2 separate regions of the Homo sapiens genome follow, and region 1 is linked to region 2. Evidence: fine-mapped expression QTL. Tissue or cell type: whole blood. Region 2 holds a variant in brackets; the other region holds the start of a gene. All regions are shown on one strand. Distances are from middle to middle. Region 1 holds the start of SCFD1 (sec1 family domain containing 1). Region 2 overlaps G2E3 (G2/M-phase specific E3 ubiquitin protein ligase).

Evidence for each region. PIP is the estimated chance that this variant, and not a neighbour inherited with it, causes the effect.
Region 1: it holds the start of SCFD1, and the variant in region 2 is fine-mapped to the expression of SCFD1 in whole blood (INTERVAL, PIP 0.95).

The regions. Positions count from the first base shown.
Region 1 is chr14:30,618,104-30,626,713 of GRCh38, forward strand. SCFD1 (sec1 family domain containing 1) reads left to right here and starts at 4,216. Exons shown (of 25, transcript NM_016106.4): 1 at 4,216-4,296. The coding sequence starts at 4,236. It overlaps G2E3 (G2/M-phase specific E3 ubiquitin protein ligase), which reads left to right. Exons shown (of 15, transcript NM_017769.5): 15 at 1-1,961. RefSeq lists enhancers at 3,550-4,749, 3,819-4,498.
Region 2 is chr14:30,566,940-30,575,549 of GRCh38, forward strand. The region is part of intron 1 of G2E3 (G2/M-phase specific E3 ubiquitin protein ligase); the gene reads left to right. G2E3-AS1 (G2E3 antisense RNA 1) reads right to left here. Exons shown (of 4, transcript NR_151720.1): 2 at 6,568-6,695. Among named protein-coding and RNA genes, the nearest start is that of G2E3-AS1, 6.1 kb to the right of the region's middle. The variant T/C (reference allele first, on the strand shown) is at 3,942.

The sequences.
Region 1 (8,610 bases), 51 kb after region 2:
TAAAACATAATTCTAGTGTACTTTTCTTTGTTCCCTCATGTCTTTTTCAATCTGTACACTAACATACCTAGCAAATTTGTTTTACTTTAACTTGAAATATTTAAGAACATTAAACAAGACATTTCTTTGGCTTTGGTTGAATTTTTTTGTCTCACCAATAGTAATTGAAAGATCAATTATCAAAGAGTTTGAATAGCTAATATAAACCCCAAAGTCACCATACAGTTTTTATTCCAAATATGTTGATAAAAAGATATTTGTTTCTTTATCCACCTTATTTTTATTACAGCTAAAAACCAATACAAACCAATAAAACCTAGTTAAAGCTATTTTCTGGTTTTTAGTTGCAATTAATTTCCCCTAGGGTAGAAATTAAAGCTGATTAAGTCACACACACATACTTTGTTGGGGTGGGGGTGGCAGGTGGAGAGGCAGTGTACTTGGGTTAGCTACAATTAAAAACAGTATTTCAATTCCTCATTTGACTTATTTTATATATAGACAGGGCCTTAGTGATAAGATGGTGTAAATAATTTAGGATATTCATGTTTTAAAGTGAAGCATAAATATTTATTTTGCAAAATGTTTTCTAGTTTGAAGGATGTTCCATTATTACCATTTTTAGATTAATCTGTATGGTCAAGGAATATCAGAGAAACCTGTAGGTTATTTATTTTCTGCAGTGTCATTTTGTCAAATGGTTGGTATTATAATTGTTCTTTTCTTATTAATTTTATAACCAGTGCATAATTCTTACATTAGATTTTAAAAAAGAATTATGCTATAAATCTTTATAAATGTGTACATATATTTCTTAAATATTGCAATTGCCTAAATGTTGTATATTTTAAGGCTGTTTTCTCTTGCTCTTAATGTTGAGGAAAACTATAAATTGATCTATAATGCATCTACTGTTAATGGTTTTGGTTAGTTTGATATTCATTGTTTTTAAACACTTTCCAATATGGAAACTTTAACACCTTTTATACAATTCTCTACTATTCAAGATATTCTTTAAAATATCTCACCAGAAACTTACAATTTTATACTTTGTAATTTTTAGTTTCTGTAATTTGAGGAAGTGACTTTTTTTGTTTGGGTTAAGTAAAAAGCCTTTGATTGATTACCAGCATGAGAATTCACCTTGGTTTCTATTTTATGCATTTGTAAATTTTTCCCCTAATTATATGGAAGCTATTGGAACTTTTGTATTCAGTGCTAAATACTAAGTCAAGGGGAGTATATTAGGTAAGTTTTTTCAGTGACTGTGCCTTTAGCATTCAGTCATTATAAGAAAATGATCAGAACAAAATCATTACATTATAAACATGTAATTCTTTTATATAGTGATTATCATGTACTGCATTGTTACTTTAAAATAAGCTATTAAACTAGTTTTTATGGTTCAAGTAATGCAATACAAAGTTTCATGCTTCAAGTAATGCAATACAAAACATAACCCATTTAATGATGAATTACTTGAATGTATATTATCTGTGGTTTAGGAAAATTTGGATTGTCTTGAAGAGACTCAGTTTTCAAGTTCTGATTTTGACCATTATCTCTTCTAATTCATAAACATATCCCAGTACCTACACTATGCCAGGTATTATGCTAGGTGATCGTTTATATGTCAGCCTATTTCCCCCCCTTTTAAAGACTGCCAGATTAACCAAAAAGCGTGACATTTATAACAATGTTTTATAAATAAATAAATGTGTTTATGCCACTAAAGGTAAACTGCCTATTTAAACTAAGTAATTTTTTGGGATTTAATAAGATTAAGATTCTGACGAAACTGAAAGATACAAGATTCCTTTACTCTCCACATTTGAGAGATCCTATAAGCAAGCAGTTAGTGTCTGACACCCAGGAACCTATAGAAATGAGGGAATCTGTGTTAAAACTATGTATCCTCTAATGTAAAATAGCTTACCAGAATAAATTATTTAAGCCAAAAATCTGGACTCAGATAAATGGCTATAGTAAATTAGGTTAATGAACAATCTGTAGCCATAGATTATTTTCAGTCTTTCTGATTCTAATAAAACAAATACCTTATTCAGTCTCAGCCTTACAAGGGCTATTTGTCTATGGTTGCTGTTCTTCTGTGAGGTGTATTTTTCTATAAATTTATTGCCCACATTCTGTGCACTTGGTCAGGAGTTTTTATCATTTCATATATATGCAGTGTACATCAATTTTAAAATTGTCTTCGTGGTTTTAACATGACTCATAGTCTTGGGAGAGAATCTGTGATGGAACTGAAGTGGCTCAATGATGGATTTGCATTTGAAAGTGGAAGTACCCAAATGAGCAAAATTGGGCTCTCAGACATTTTATATTTCATAGAGACTGTAGAATGCAGTAGAACTTTCCCATAGGGCAGAAATAATTTGTTTAGTTGGAACACACCTAGATCATTGAAGATTCCTTCAAAATATTAGTAATAGTACTGAAGACACACATGTATTCCAGTTAATTTCTTAATGAATGTGCCAATTAGCTATAAAAATGAGATTACATAATTTTTTTTTCTTTTTTGAGACAGAATCTCACTCAGTCACCCAGGCTGGAGTGCAGTGGCGCGATCTCTGCTCACTGCATCCTCCGCCTCCCAGGTTCAAGCAGTTCTTCCTGCCTCAGCCTCCCCAGTAGCTGGGATTAAAGGCGCCCACCACCACACCCGGCTAATTTTGTATTTTTAGTAGAGACCGGGTTTCACCATGTTGGCCAGGCTGGTCTCGAACTACTGACGTCAGGTGATCTGCCCACCTCTACCTCCCAAAGTGCTGGGATTACAGGCGTGAGCCACCGCACCCGGCAGAGATTATGTAATAAGATAACCTGTTTTAAATGTCACAAAAATAAATTTTTATTAATGAAAAAAGCCAGTGTTTCACACTATAAAACAATATATAATCGTTAGGCTAACCATTTCATTTATATAATTGTGAAAGTTAAGCTTTTGAGGTACAGAGTGATTTCATTTCAGAATTTGGTGCAACTTCATAATGAAGCGTCATCAATGAACTCGGGAAATGAGGTGTCATTGTGTATCCATTTTGGTCATACAGTAAAATCTATGGATTAAGTTAGAAATCATCTATCCCATATATTTTGCGGTCACGTGGCTTCAAGTGTACATTAAACCGCCAGCACAAGACCAGCCTGGCCAACATGGTGAATCCCCGTCTCTACAAAAAAAAAAAAAAAAAATTTAGCCGGGCGTGGTGACCCCTGCCTATAGTCCCAACTAGTGGGCAGTCTGAGGTGGAAGGATAGTTTGGGAGGATCGCTTGAGTCCGGGAGGTCGAGACTACAGTGAGCCGAGATTCTGCCACTGCACTCCAGCCTGAGCGACAGACAGTGAGATACTATCTCAAAAACAAAACAACAACAAAAACCAGCACATCAGCCTGGCCTGATGGTGTGCCCCTGTAGTCCCTAGCTACTTGGGAGACTGAAGCAGGAGGATCGTTTGACCGTCAGAATTTGAGGCTGCAGTGATCCCTGATTGCGCGCTCCAGCCTAGGCAACACACCCCACTACTGCTTGACTTCCTTCCCACGGCAAGGTGATTTTGCAATTACTACAAGGAAAGAGGAGAAATGCTAATTTCTCATTTTGTACCTCCCTGGATCCCGTGTCCATGCCGGCAGAACGCCACCATAAAGCTACACCTTTTTTTTTAAAGAGATGCGACTGAGAAATATGCCAGATCAGAGTAATGCTCCAATGCTTTCCGTTTCTCTGGAGAAAGGAGCAAAGGGAAGACTCCTGCTGCACTGAGAAACGAGAGCTAACGTTAAAATGTTGCCTGTGTTTCAGGAGCTTCATTTACTTCAGTCCTGTGGTCCTTATACTCCTAGAGCATTATCACCCTTTAAGTGCTCTGTAAGTCACCAAACCAACAGTTCAGTAATTAGGTTCTTAGCACTACACGCTCCTACCCTAACAGCTCAATTTAATGTTGCTACCATTTGAGAGAGTGTGGCTTGATTCGGTAGGATAAAAACTCTTAGTATTCGCCTAACATTACGGGCCACTGAATTAACCTGCACCGGGTCTCCCAGTTCTACCGAGAGTGGAGGTCTTCCTGGAGGAGGTGGGGTCCGGAACTCAGGCACACCCTTTGGCCCCGCCCTTCCGGGCTTTGCTTCCGGGGCGGTAAGGGCAGCCACGTCATCCCCCCGCTCCGCTCCCCAGCCGGGCAGTGGCTCGTGGGAGCCAAGATGGCGGCGGCGGCGGCAGCGACAGCAGCAGCAGCAGCCAGTATTCGGGAAAGGCAGACAGGTACTGACTTATTCTCTTCTCCTTGAAGCTTCGTGACTGCCCCGACGACATCCTTCTCCTCTGGTGCGTGCAGCTCAGAGACCGATCTCCAGGAGTTTAATCCAGTCCCTAGAACATCAAGAGCCCCTCCCCTTTGAGTTTTTGGGGAGAAGTTGCCATTAGCTTGAGGACTCGGTTCCTCCTGTGGTGCAGGAGAAGGAGCTTCAGCGGTGGGCGGATTGCTACGGCCCTGCTCTTGTCTCCTTCCTAGTGGGCATCAGAAGGCCATCACAACAAGATCTAGCAGCTGATAGCTTCTTATCTATGTTGCCACCTATGAGGTCTCCGAGTTTCTGTGCGTGGTTCAGTTCTCCTGGTTTTGATTTTTAAGAGAACTCCCATTTTCTGACACTCAGAGAATTTAGGTATTTTCACAGCGGCTTGCTTTGCGCCACTTCTCTACTTCGGACCAGTCTTTTGGGGGTACCTGCAGAAAAATGCCTGGTGATAAACATTTTCTCCTTCAGCTTGCTGGAAGGCATTGAAGAATGGCAAAACAAATGAATTAATAGCTTTCTCATTTTAATTGTTTGACACATTGTTTTAAAATAATATTTTATCTTCAATAGAGCATGTTTATATAGCTTCTATTTATGCAGAGAAATGTAAAAAGGCACATATTCTTCTCTTGAGTTTTGGGTTTTTTTCCGTCTTAGAAATTAGTTTTGCCTTACTTGAAAACTTCTCATGACAACTTGGTTTATACCTGTTAGCTACAAACTAAAGGTTTATACTTGTTAACTAGTTGTCTTAAAAGTTTTCAAGCAATTTATTCTGAGGAGCTAATAGAAATAAGGCATCAAGAATGTGCATACTTGGAATTCTGTTTCCTGAAATTATGCTCTGTTGGATATAAATATGAATAGGAAAATAAATTTATAATTCATATGACCTACAGAAGGGATTTGGGCTGTACTTGATTCCTTCCTTTGGCATTTAAAGAAAAAGTGATAGACTTCAATTTAGTAATGACACACAAAAGATACTGAGTTGCGTTCTGCTTTTCCCAGTAAATAATTTAGTATAACCTATCAGGTGAAGTCAGGCATAACTAAATATAGGGAAGTTCAAATAAGATTTGGGGCATACCTGCCATTCGTTGTATATGTTTAAACAAATGGAAGCTCCATTTGTTTTAATACTGTGTTTCTGATGACTATACTACATATTAAAATAACGTGTCAGTAAAACTGTACCAATACAAGAGAGCTTTTTGAAAAATAAATTTGCGTGGCCGTAAACTTGTATGCAGAAATTTTGTAGATCATTAAAATCTAATCGTTTGTATTTCTGCAGAAATAAACATAGTAAGATTTTACAGAATTACTAGGTAGTGCTAGATCTATTTTTTATCAAATTTTTACTGTCATTGAATTCTGCCTTATTTTCAGAGGAAGGTAAATCCTTGTATATATATTATAATGCAGAATTAGCTATTTCCCTCATGCCTATGGAGAATGTTTTGGGAGATAACTCACAGTCCTTAAATATTCTAGATACTAGAATATTTGGGTGGATGAGATAATAGTTGGCATTTATTGAGCATTTACTATTGTTAGGCATTGCATTAGGTGATTATGTATTATCTCCATTTTACAGGTGAGGAAAGTAAGATAGAGGTAAACTAACGTGCCTGTTTCTTGCTTTGCCTGCCTGAAAAATCTTTATTGGTCTCCTGAAAAATCTTTATTGATCTTTTGAAGGTCATCCCACAAGCCATCTCCTTTCTTCCTGGTTCACTGTCCCCTCTATCCATACCTTCAGTTCAATAGGTAGAATCAGTTGCCTCCTGCTCCGTGTTACTGTTGTTCTTCATTGAATGCGTCTTCGTTACAGGTTCTTGCACATCTTCCCAGCTTCTCAACATTGCAGGGTCCCATTAGTGTTCTCATCTAGCGCCTTAGCTTTCAGTATTATCTGTATGTTGATGATTCCCAGGTTTATATCCCTAGTCTGGCCGTCCCATCTGAACTCAGTCTACTCCATATCAGTTAATGGCAGTTCCGTCCTTTTAGTTGTTCAGGTCAAAAACCTTGAAGTTTTCTTGACTTGTCTCTTTCATGTCTCATGTAAGATCTTTCAGTAAATCTTGTCAGTTCTACTCTGAAAATACATCCAGGATCTGACTGTTGTCATTGCTATTCCGAGGTCCTGTCCACCATGAATTTCTGCAGTAACCTATTTGGTCTCTTTGCTTTTACAATCCTGTTCTCCTTCATTATTTTTCACACAGTACCCAAACTGATCATGCCATATGTTTGCTCAAAATCTTCCAGCATCTTCCCATTTCAACCATGATAAAAGCCAAAGTGATCTTACAGTGTTCTACAAGGCTTTATACGATCTGGTTTCCATGTAGCTTTTGGACCTCACTCCCTATTTCTCTTCCCTCTCCTTGAACCCACCAGGAATGCTCCCACCTTCGAGCCTTTGTATTTGTTTCTTCTTTGTGGAGTACTGTTTCAGAGATAATCTCCATGGCTCACTCCCTCACTTCCTTTAGGTCTTTACTCAAATGTTACCTTCTCAGGAGGCTTTCCCCAATTATTCTGTTTAAAATTACACCTCAACTCCATCTTCCCCTTTCCCAATCTTACCTTTCTTCAAAGCACTTACCATGATCTACATACCATATGTTTTACTTTTTTTTTATTTTATTTTTTTTATCCCCCAATTAGAATGAAAGCTACTTGAGGACAGGCGATTTTATTCACTGTTTTGTTCAGTTGCTAGATCCCCAATAACTACAGTGCCTGTGGTGAGCACTCATCAAACGTGTTGAATGAATGAATAGTGTGTATGTAAGTAATGACATTAACCAAGTCTAGGAATATGGATACAGGTTGAGTATCCCTTATCCAAAATGCTTGCGACCAGGAGTGTTTTTGATTTTGGAATATTTGCATTATTACTGGTTGAGCATCCCAAATTTCAAAATCCGAGCACCAGCTTAAAAAATTTTGATTTTGGAGCATTTCAGGTTTCAGATATTAAGACTTGGGATGCTCAACCTGTAGTATATTTAGAGCCAATAAGAAAAATGGTTTGTCATTTCAGATAAAGTCATGGTTTAAGCCTTGGGTAAACTCTGATAAAAGTAAAATTACGTTCTTGTAAACTCTGAACACAGGCCGTGTACTCCATTAACAAATCCTTTTTGTTATAGGTATAGGTATACCTATATAGGTATAGGTATATAGGCATATAGGTATACCTATATAGGTATAGGTATATAGGCATATAGGTATACCTATATAGGTATAGGTATATAGGTATATAGGTATATAGGTATATCAATAGGTATATTGATATAGGTAAAAGGTATATCAAAATACCTTTTAATAAGTTAGCCAAGGCTCAAAGTTGGAGAAAATCTCAGACTGGGCTGAGAAGGCGAATGTAGGATTATCTTATTTGCTGCTGCTGGCCTCTTTCAGTTAGCTAAGGCCTAACTGTGCAGCATACTAAACACCTGAGGCTCACATGGCAGCTCAGGCTTTCGTTCTTCCAAGTTGTCAGGCTTCAAGAGTGTGAACAGCTGTTCCCAGAAACAGGGTTTCCTCCCTCTTGGGCGTGAGTGCCAGGGTGGTGGTGTCTTTATTGCCTGGAGGTGGAGGAAGAGCTCTGCAAATGCACAGTGGGAGAGTTAATCCTGAAACCCCCTCCGTGCTTCCTGTGTTATTTCAGTTTTAAGTGTTAAACTGTTTTTTTGTTTATATTAAATATATTTAATATTATAAATACATTAAATAAAATACATTTTTATTTAATGTAAAACCTGTGGGCCTCTGAAGTAGGTAATATTGGTAATGTGTATTTTTGGCTGGACATTAGGTAATAACATTTTACCAAAAATTATGTCTGTAGGTGTATGGTAAATACACCTGATAGCAATAACTTAAGCGTGCCCTGAGAATGACCCTGTATTGCAGACACACCTGGATATGTGTTTCAAGCTAGGGAATCAAAATGGCCCACCTGGAGATTCATTCCTTGTCTGTGAGGAACATCTGAGCCCCCAGCCCATCCAGTGAAACATAGGCCATGCAGTGGATCAAGGCCCCGAGTTTTGGGTTGAATGAAGGTTGCCAGGTGGAGGTTGTTAGGGAAATGTTAAGTGAAAATGCTGTATAAACCACATTTTTGCTATATAAACCACTTTTTGCATGCAGTTATGGTTCTCCTGCCCAGCGCATTGCCACTGAGTATACAGTTCTCCTGTCCAGCCCACTGTCACTGGACTCTCCTATGTGTGTTGCCCCCATTAAAACCCTG
Region 2 (8,610 bases):
ATGTGACCTTTTCCTTTTTCTCTATTAGTATGGTATATTATATTGGTTGATTTCCATATGCTGAACCACCTTTGCATTTCTGGGATAAATCCCACTTGGTTATGGTACAAAATTTTCTTTATCAGAATCAGTTTGCTGGTAGTTTGTTAAGGATATTTGCATCTATGTTCATAAGAGATAATTGGCTTGTAGTTTTATTTTCTGTGATGTCTTTTTCTGGCTTTGGTATCGGGGTATTGGTGGCTTCATAAAATGAGTTAGGAAGTGTCATAATATCTTTTGGAGGGGTTTGAGAAAGATTGGTGCCAATTTTTCTTCAAAGGTTTAATAGGGTTCACCAGTGAACCCATCTGGGCTAGGACTTTATTCGTTGGGAGGTTCTTCATTAGTGATTCAATCTCTTGTTTGTAGATTTGTTGAAATTTTCTATTTCTTCTTGTCACTTTTGTTATTTGTTTAACCTATTGTTTAATTTGTTAACTTTTAACTTCTTAGAGTACAATTGTTCATAATAGTCTCATTTAATTCTTTTTATTTGTATTAGGTCTGTAGCAGTGTCCCACTTTCATTTCTTCTGATTTAGTAATTTGAGTCTTCTCTTTTTTTTCTCTGGGTCATCTAACTAAACGTTTTCAATTTTGTCGATCTTCTCAAGCAATTTTTATTTTATTGATTCTCAATTTAAAAATTTTTTTATTACATTATCTGGACTCTAAATTATTTCCTTCCTTCTGCTAGCTTTGGGTTTAGTTTGGTCTTTTTCTAGTTTCTTTGGGCATATAGTTGGGTCATTGTTTTGGGGGCTTGATTTTATTTGTCTCTAAGTATTTTCTAATTTCCCTTGTGATTTCTTTTTTGACTTTTTGTCTATTTAAAGTTGTTATTTAATCTCCATATGTTTCTCAGTTTTCCAGTTTTCCTTTTATTGATTTCTAGTTTCATTCCATAGTCATTGGAGAGGATATTTTGTGTGATTTCAGTCTTGTAAAATGTATTATTTTGTGGTCTAACATGGTATATCCATGGATATTGTTCCACGTGCATTTGAGAAGAATGTTTCATTCTGTTGTAGGGTGGAGTGTTCTGTATATGTTAAGTCTAAACTATTTCTCCTTTCATTTCTGTCAAATTTTGCCTTGTATATTTTGGGGCTCTTATTAGGTGGGTTTGTGTTTATAATTGTCATGTCTTCTTGATGGATTGAACTTTTTAGTCAGTCTTTAATGTCCTTTGAGTCCTGTAACAATCTTCAACTTAAAGCCTGTTTTGTCTGACATTAGTATAAACACCCAAGCTTACTTTTGATTACTGTTTGTATGAAGTATCTTATTCTGTCATTTTACTTTCCATCTATTTGTGTTTTGATATCTATAGCTTGACCCTAGTAGATAGTGTATGTATGGATTTTAAAAAAATTCATTCTGTCAACCTTTGCCTTTTAATTGGAGCGTGTAATTCATTTACATTTAATTACTGTTAAGGAAGGATTTCTGACATTTTAGTATTTGTTTTCTAAATACTATCTTTCTGTTCCTCATTTCCTTCCTTATTGCCTTTTGTTTAATTGATTTGTATAGTGTACCATTTTGATTCCCTTCTCATTACCTTTTCTGCACATATTTTTTAGTTATATTCTTAGTGGCTATCTTGGGGATTACAATTAATATCTTAAACTTATAACAACCTAGTTTGAATTAATACCCACTCAGCTTTCATAGTATACAAAAATTACACTTCTGTATATCTCATCCTTCTTCCTAAATGTTATTGTGTCAAATTACATTTTATATTTTTTGCTTATTTTACATTTATACATAATGTGCCCAATAACATTGATTTATATTTATTTTACGTGTTTTTCTTTTAAATCATAAAGGAAAAAGAGAATTACCAAAAGTGCAATAATACTACTGGCTTTTATATTTACTTCTGTAATTACCTTTACTGGTGTTTTTATTTCCTCGTATGGCTTTGACTTACTGTCTGGTGTCCCATTAGCATCTCTAGTAGGACAGATCTACTAAAAGTTTCCCTTTCACCCTAGACCCCAGGTCTACCAGACCTTCTGAGAAACAGCCATTCTTGTCTGTCTCCTGGATGATTTTCCAGAGAATATAAGCTTTTAAGAAACTTTTTATTGAGGTATAATATATATGCCAAATATATTTTAAGTACATAATTATGTTCATTGTAAAAAGTCAAACAATGCCAAAATTTATAAGAAATTAAAAGAAAAAGCCCCTACCCCTTCTCTCTCCCCAGGGATAACCACCATTAACAGTTAGGGACCTAAAAACTTTATGGTCTTTCTTGATCTCAGAAACTTCTGATCTTTCTGAATTCCTTTCACCCTTCCTTCTCTCCATCGAATTACTTCTCCTGCTTTGCATATAAGAACCCTAATAGGTAGGTATTATCATCTCCATTGGACACAAGGCAGAGCAAGGAGTTCAAACACAGAAAATGTATAATTCAAGTGTAATGTTCTTTCTGCCATGTTCCTCTGCCTGGGTCCTGCCTGGAATCTTAAAAGTTTAATTGCTCTGTCACATAAGGTAGCAGATACATTGTCCTGTTAAAATATAATTAAGGCCTTATTTTTTAGACAGGAGAAGACCTGGTTCTGTGGGAGTTGTGACAGAATAGCCTTTATTGCCTGAACTGTAGTAAAAAAGATGCCACCTGCTTTAAGAAGGGTACTTTGGATTGGGCTGGTTATTTAGAGCCTGACTTGGTCAGTGGAAGGGGCTAGGACTGGAATAAGACCTGCCCACGAAGTCAGGGTTAGGACCAGCTGGTGAAGGGGGGGGATTATATTACTTACTATCTGATAATCCAATCCAAGGAGATTTATATAATCCAACCAAATGGCAGAATCAGCAAGAGCAACTTCCAGAAGAAATTCCTGACATTCCCCAAACATCCCAGGCTTTCACACACTGTTGTACCTTTGCACACACTCTACTTAGAATGCTTTTTCTGCCTTGTCTGCTCAGAATATTTATTTTTCACAATTACGTTATAATATCACCACCTCTGTAAGGCTACACTGCATGTGTGTGAAATATTTGTTTACTTGCCTGCCTCCCATGTGAGTATGTGTACTCATCTTCACTTTTGAAACATAGTTTTGCTGCAGATAGGATTCTTTGCTTACAGGTTTGGGTTTTTTTCCTGTCTTTCAGCACTTTAAATATGTCATCTCACTGCCTTCTGGAACTCTATGGTTTCAAATGAGAATTTGGCTCTTAATCTTATTGGGGATATTTTGTATGTGTTAATCACTTCTCTCTTGCTGCTTTCAAGATTCTTTGTCTTTGTTTTTGTCAGTTTGACTATACTGTGTCTCAATGTGGATCTCCTAGAATTTGTCCTGATTAAAGATCTTGAGCTTCTTAAAAATGTGTAGATTGAAGTCTTACCTGTATAGATTTCAGTCTTCCATGAAATTTGGGAAGTTTTTGGCTATTATTTCTTCAAACATTCTTTCTGTTCCACTTTCTCCGGTCCCTCTTGGACTCCTATTAAGCATATATTGGTATACTTGATGGTGTCTCATAGTCTCTTGGGCTCTGTTTATTTTTCATTTTTTTTCTTTCTGCTCTTCAGACTGGATAATTTCAACTAACCTGTCTTCAAGTTCGCTGATTCTTTCTCCTGCCTGCTCAAACGTGCTGTTAAACCTCTGTAATGAATTTATTATTTCAGTTATTGTACTTTTCAGCTGCAGAATTTCTATTTCCTTTTTATCATTTCTACTTCTTTATTGATATTCTCTATTTGTTGAGACATTGTTGATTGTGAGTTTTTTGCCAGGTTTTTCTGTGTTTCTAGGGAGGTACAGGCCTGCAGAGCCCCTTGCTCCACCATTTTCGTGGATGTGTTCTGTATTACTAAGTTTGAAGAGTTTTTTCAGAAAATATATTGTGGATCTAACTAAG[T/C]CCTTTATCAGATTATGATTTGCAAATACTTTCTCAGTCTGAGGCTTGTCTTATTCTCTTAACAGTGTCTTTTGATGAGCAGAAGATACTAACTTTAAGTACAGTTTATCTTTTTTTGTCTTGTGCTGTCAGTATTGTATCTAAGAAATCTTACGTAACATAAGGTCACAGAAATTTTCTCCTCTGTGTTTTTTCTAGAAATTTTATAGTTTTACATTTTGTATTTAGAGCTGTAATTCATTTTGAGTTCATTTTTTGTGAGACAAGTATTCTTGTGGGTGCTGTAGTGGGTTTGCTTTTTTTTTTTTGCTATTTTAATGTGCATTTCCTTTATGACCAGTGATGTTCATATTTTCTTTTGCTTGTTGGCTATGTTGTGTTTTTTTTAAATGTCTGGTCAAATCTTTTGTCCATTTTGTTCATTTTATTGTGATGTCTATTTGAGTTGTAAGCATTCTTTATGCATTGTGGATATAAATCCTTTGTCAGGTATATGTTTTGCCAGTGTTTATTCCCAATCTGTGTTTTGCCTTTTTCTTTGCTTAACTATGTTTTTTTGATTAGAAAGTTCTTAATTTTGATGTTTAATTCATCAGTGTTTTTTATGATTCAGTTTCCTAAGAAATCTTTGCCAAACCCCAAGATCATGAAGATTCTTCACTATGTTTTCTTCTAGAAGTTTTTTTTCTTGTGATCCAATTTGAATTAAGTTTTAATATATGAGGTCAATGTTCTTCCCCCCACCCTCCGCCCAAAGCATTCAGTTATTTCAATACTATTTATTGAATAGACTACCATTTGAATACAGTGAATTACCTTGGTATCTTTGTTGAAAAGCAATTGTCTGGGTCTGTTTCTGGCCTTTCCCTTGTGTTCTATTGAGCTATATATCTGACTTTTCCCTTATGATCTATTGAGCTACACATCTGTCTTGATTAACATAGCTCTATAAGAAGTCATGAAATCACATAGTTGGAGACCACTTTTTCTTTTTAAAAATGTTTTTGCTATTACAAGACTTTTGCATTTTTATATAGGTTTTAGAATCAGCATGCCAGTATCTTAAAAAAAAAAAAAACCTGCTGGGGATTTTGGTTGGGATTGTGTTAAATTGACATCTTAACAATATTACGCCCATGAGCATTGTCTATCTCTTCATTTATTTAGGTCTTTCATTTCTCTCAGCAGTGTTTTGTAGCTTTTCAGAGTGTAGTCTTTTTCCACATCTTTTACTAAGTTTTTACCTATTGTGAATAGAATTGTTCTCTAATTTTCTGATTAATTCTTGCTGTTATACAGATTTGCCTTGTTTCATTACAACTTGTTAAAGTCACTTATTCTTATAAATATGTTGGTAGGATTTTCTATGTAGATGATCATATGTGAAAACAGTTTTACTTCATCCTTCACAGTTTTGTCTTCTTTTCCCTTGGAGTACACTGTTGAATCAGAGACTAAGGTGAACGTTTGTAGATTCCCTTCGCTAGGTTGAAAAAATTTATTTTACCCACAGTTTGCTTTACAGTTTTGTTATGATTGGATATTGACATTTGTCAGATGCCCTTTTGTATCTGTTGACATTGTGTCACAGTACAGTGTGGAAATTAATGCACATTTGTAGATGCCCTTTATTAGGTTGAGAAAATTCCCGTCTGTTTCTGGTTTGTCCTACAGTTTTATCATGATTGGTTGTTGAATTTTGTCAAATGCTCTTTCTGCATCTATTGAGATGGTCATACTTTTTTCACCCCTTATTGTATTAACATGGTGTATTACTTTACTTTTCAGATGATATCTAATCTTATATTTCTAAGATAAATCCAGTTAAGATATATTATCCTTTTTTTTTTAATTAAAAGAAAAACTACCAATGATTGACTAAATTTGCCAGGTACTCTTGTGGCGTTTATGTGTTGTTTCTAATTCTTACAATAACCTGTAATTAGCTTCTAGTTTGAGGGATGATAAAATTGAGGCTGAGGTCTCAGGAAAAAACATATAGAACATGAAGGAAAGTCTAAACTTCATACCTTCAATGCCCCTAGTACTCTTTCTACTATACCATGCTACTTTTTGTAATAATTTATGGTTAAAAAACATTGAAGATCATATTGATGTTTTATGTACTTTTTTTTTGGATGGAGGTCTCACTATGTTGCTCAAGGTGGACTCAAATTCCTGGGCTCAAGCAATCCTCCTGCTTCAGCCTTTCAAGTAGCTGGGACTACAGGTGCATAACACTGTGCCTGGCTTTTATGTACATTTTTAAGATATGTTTATTATTTCCTAGAATGTAAATAATTGATTCATGAAAAAAAAATTCTAATAGCTTTTGACCTCTACCATTGAATGTCTTTCTTCTAATTTTATCTTAGCTGTTGCTGTGAACCAAAGTAACTAACAAATCTTTAAGAGTATTTCTTTTTGTCTCCAAATTTGTAGGAGCACATAAAGTGTATTAACTATCTATCCCGAGGTAACATGGGTGTATTAGTCACAGTTCTCCAGAGAAACAGAAACAACAGGATATGTGTGTGTGTGTGTGTGTGTGCGTGTGTGTGTGTCTCTGTGTGTGTAGAGAAGGAGAGGGAAGGATTGATTAATTTATTATAAGGTATTGACTCACATGATTATGTAGTGTGAACAGTCCCATTATCTGTTTGCAAACTGGAGACCCAGGAAAGTCCCGCAGTGTAGTTTGAATGTCTGGAGCCAAACAGCTGATGGTATAGGTTCCAGTCCGGATCTGAAGGCCTGAGAACCAGGAACACCAAGGACAGAAGATTGATGTCCTACCTCAAGCAGTCAGACAGCAAATTTAACCTTTTTCTGCCTTCTGGTTTTATTCAGGCCCTCAGTGGACTAGCTAATGTCTACCCACGCTGGGGATGGCCATCTGCTTTGCTCAGTTCACCAGTAAACTGAGTAAAGTTTACCAATCTTTTCCAGAAACACTCTCACAGACACATCCAAACATAAGTTTAACCAGATATCTGGGCGTCCTGTGGCCTGGTAAAGGTAACACATAAAATTAACCATCACACTGTATTAATCTTGATCTTGAATTTTTTGGGAATGTTTTATATTACTTTTAATTCAATTATTTTTAAACCTTTTTTTATTTTGAAATTATTCTAAAGTTACAGGAAAGTTGCAAGAAAAGTACAAAGAACTACATATGCCCTTACCTAGATTAACCACTCTTTATTATTTTCCACATTCACTTTATCATCCTGCAGTATTGTACATTTGCATGTAACTTCCCTTTTCTGAACCGTTGGAGAGTAGGTTGCATATATCTGGTCCCCCTACCCCTTAATGCTTCAGTATTTCCTAAGAACAGTGATAGTCTACTAAATAACCTAAATATGGATACCAATTTCAGGAAACTTAGCATAAATACAATACTTTCAACTAAATATTGTTTTGGTCAATTGCCTCGGTGATGTCCTTTGGAGCAGTTTTATTCCCCAGTGCAGGATACAGTCCAGGATCCTTCATGCATTTGTAGTAAATAAAATACAGTTCATCTTTTTTTTTTAACTTTTTTTTTTTTTTAGGTTTGGGGGTACATGTGAAGGTTTGTTACATAGGTAAACAACATGTCATGGGGGTTTGTTGCACATATTATTTCATCACCCAGGTATTAAGCCCAATAGCCAATAGTTATCTTTTCTGCTCCTCTCCCTCCTCCCACCCTCCTGCGTCAGGTAGACCCCAGTGTCTCTTGTTTCCTTCTTTGTGTTCATGAGTTCTTATCATTTAGCTCCCACTTACAAGTGAGAACATGCGGTATTTGGTTTTTTGTTCCTGTATTACTGTGCTAAGGATAATAGCCTCCGGCTCCATCCATGTTCCTGCAAAAGACATGATCTTACTCTTTTTTATGGCTGCACAATATTTTATCGTGTATTTGTACCCTATTTTCTTTATCCAGTCTGTCACTGATGGGCATTTAGGCTGATTCCACGTCTTTGCTATTGTGAATAGTGCTGCAGTGAACATTTGTGTGCATGTGTCTTTATGGTAGAATGATTTATAGTCCTCTGGCTATATACCCAGTAATGAGATTGCTGGGTAAAATGGTAGTTCTGCTTTTTGCTCTTTGTGGATTGCCATACTGCTTTCCACAGTGGTTGGACTAATTTACACTACCACCAACAGGGTATAAGTGTTTCCTTTTCTCCACAACCTTACCCGCATCTGTTATTTTTTGACTTTGTGATAATAGCCATTCTGACTGGTGTGAGATGGTATCTCATTGTAGTTTTGATTTGCATTTCTCTAATGATTAGTGATGTTGAGCTTTTTTTCATATGCCTGTTGGTCGCGTATATGTCTTCTTTTGAGAAGTATCTGCTTATGTCCTTTGGCCACTTTTTAATGGGGTTGTTTTTTTCTTGTAAATTAAAGTTCCTTATAAATGCTTTTGATAAAATTCAGCAGCCCTTCATGTTAAAAACTCTCAATAAACTACATATTGAGGGAACATACCTCAAAATAATAAGAGCCATCTATGACAAACCCACAGCCAACATTATACTGAATGGGCAAAAGCTAGAAGCATTCCTCTTGAGAACCGACACAAGACGAGGATACTCTCTCACCACTTCAACATAGTTTTGGGAGTCCTAGCCAGAGCAGTCAGGCAAGAGAAGGAAATAAAGGG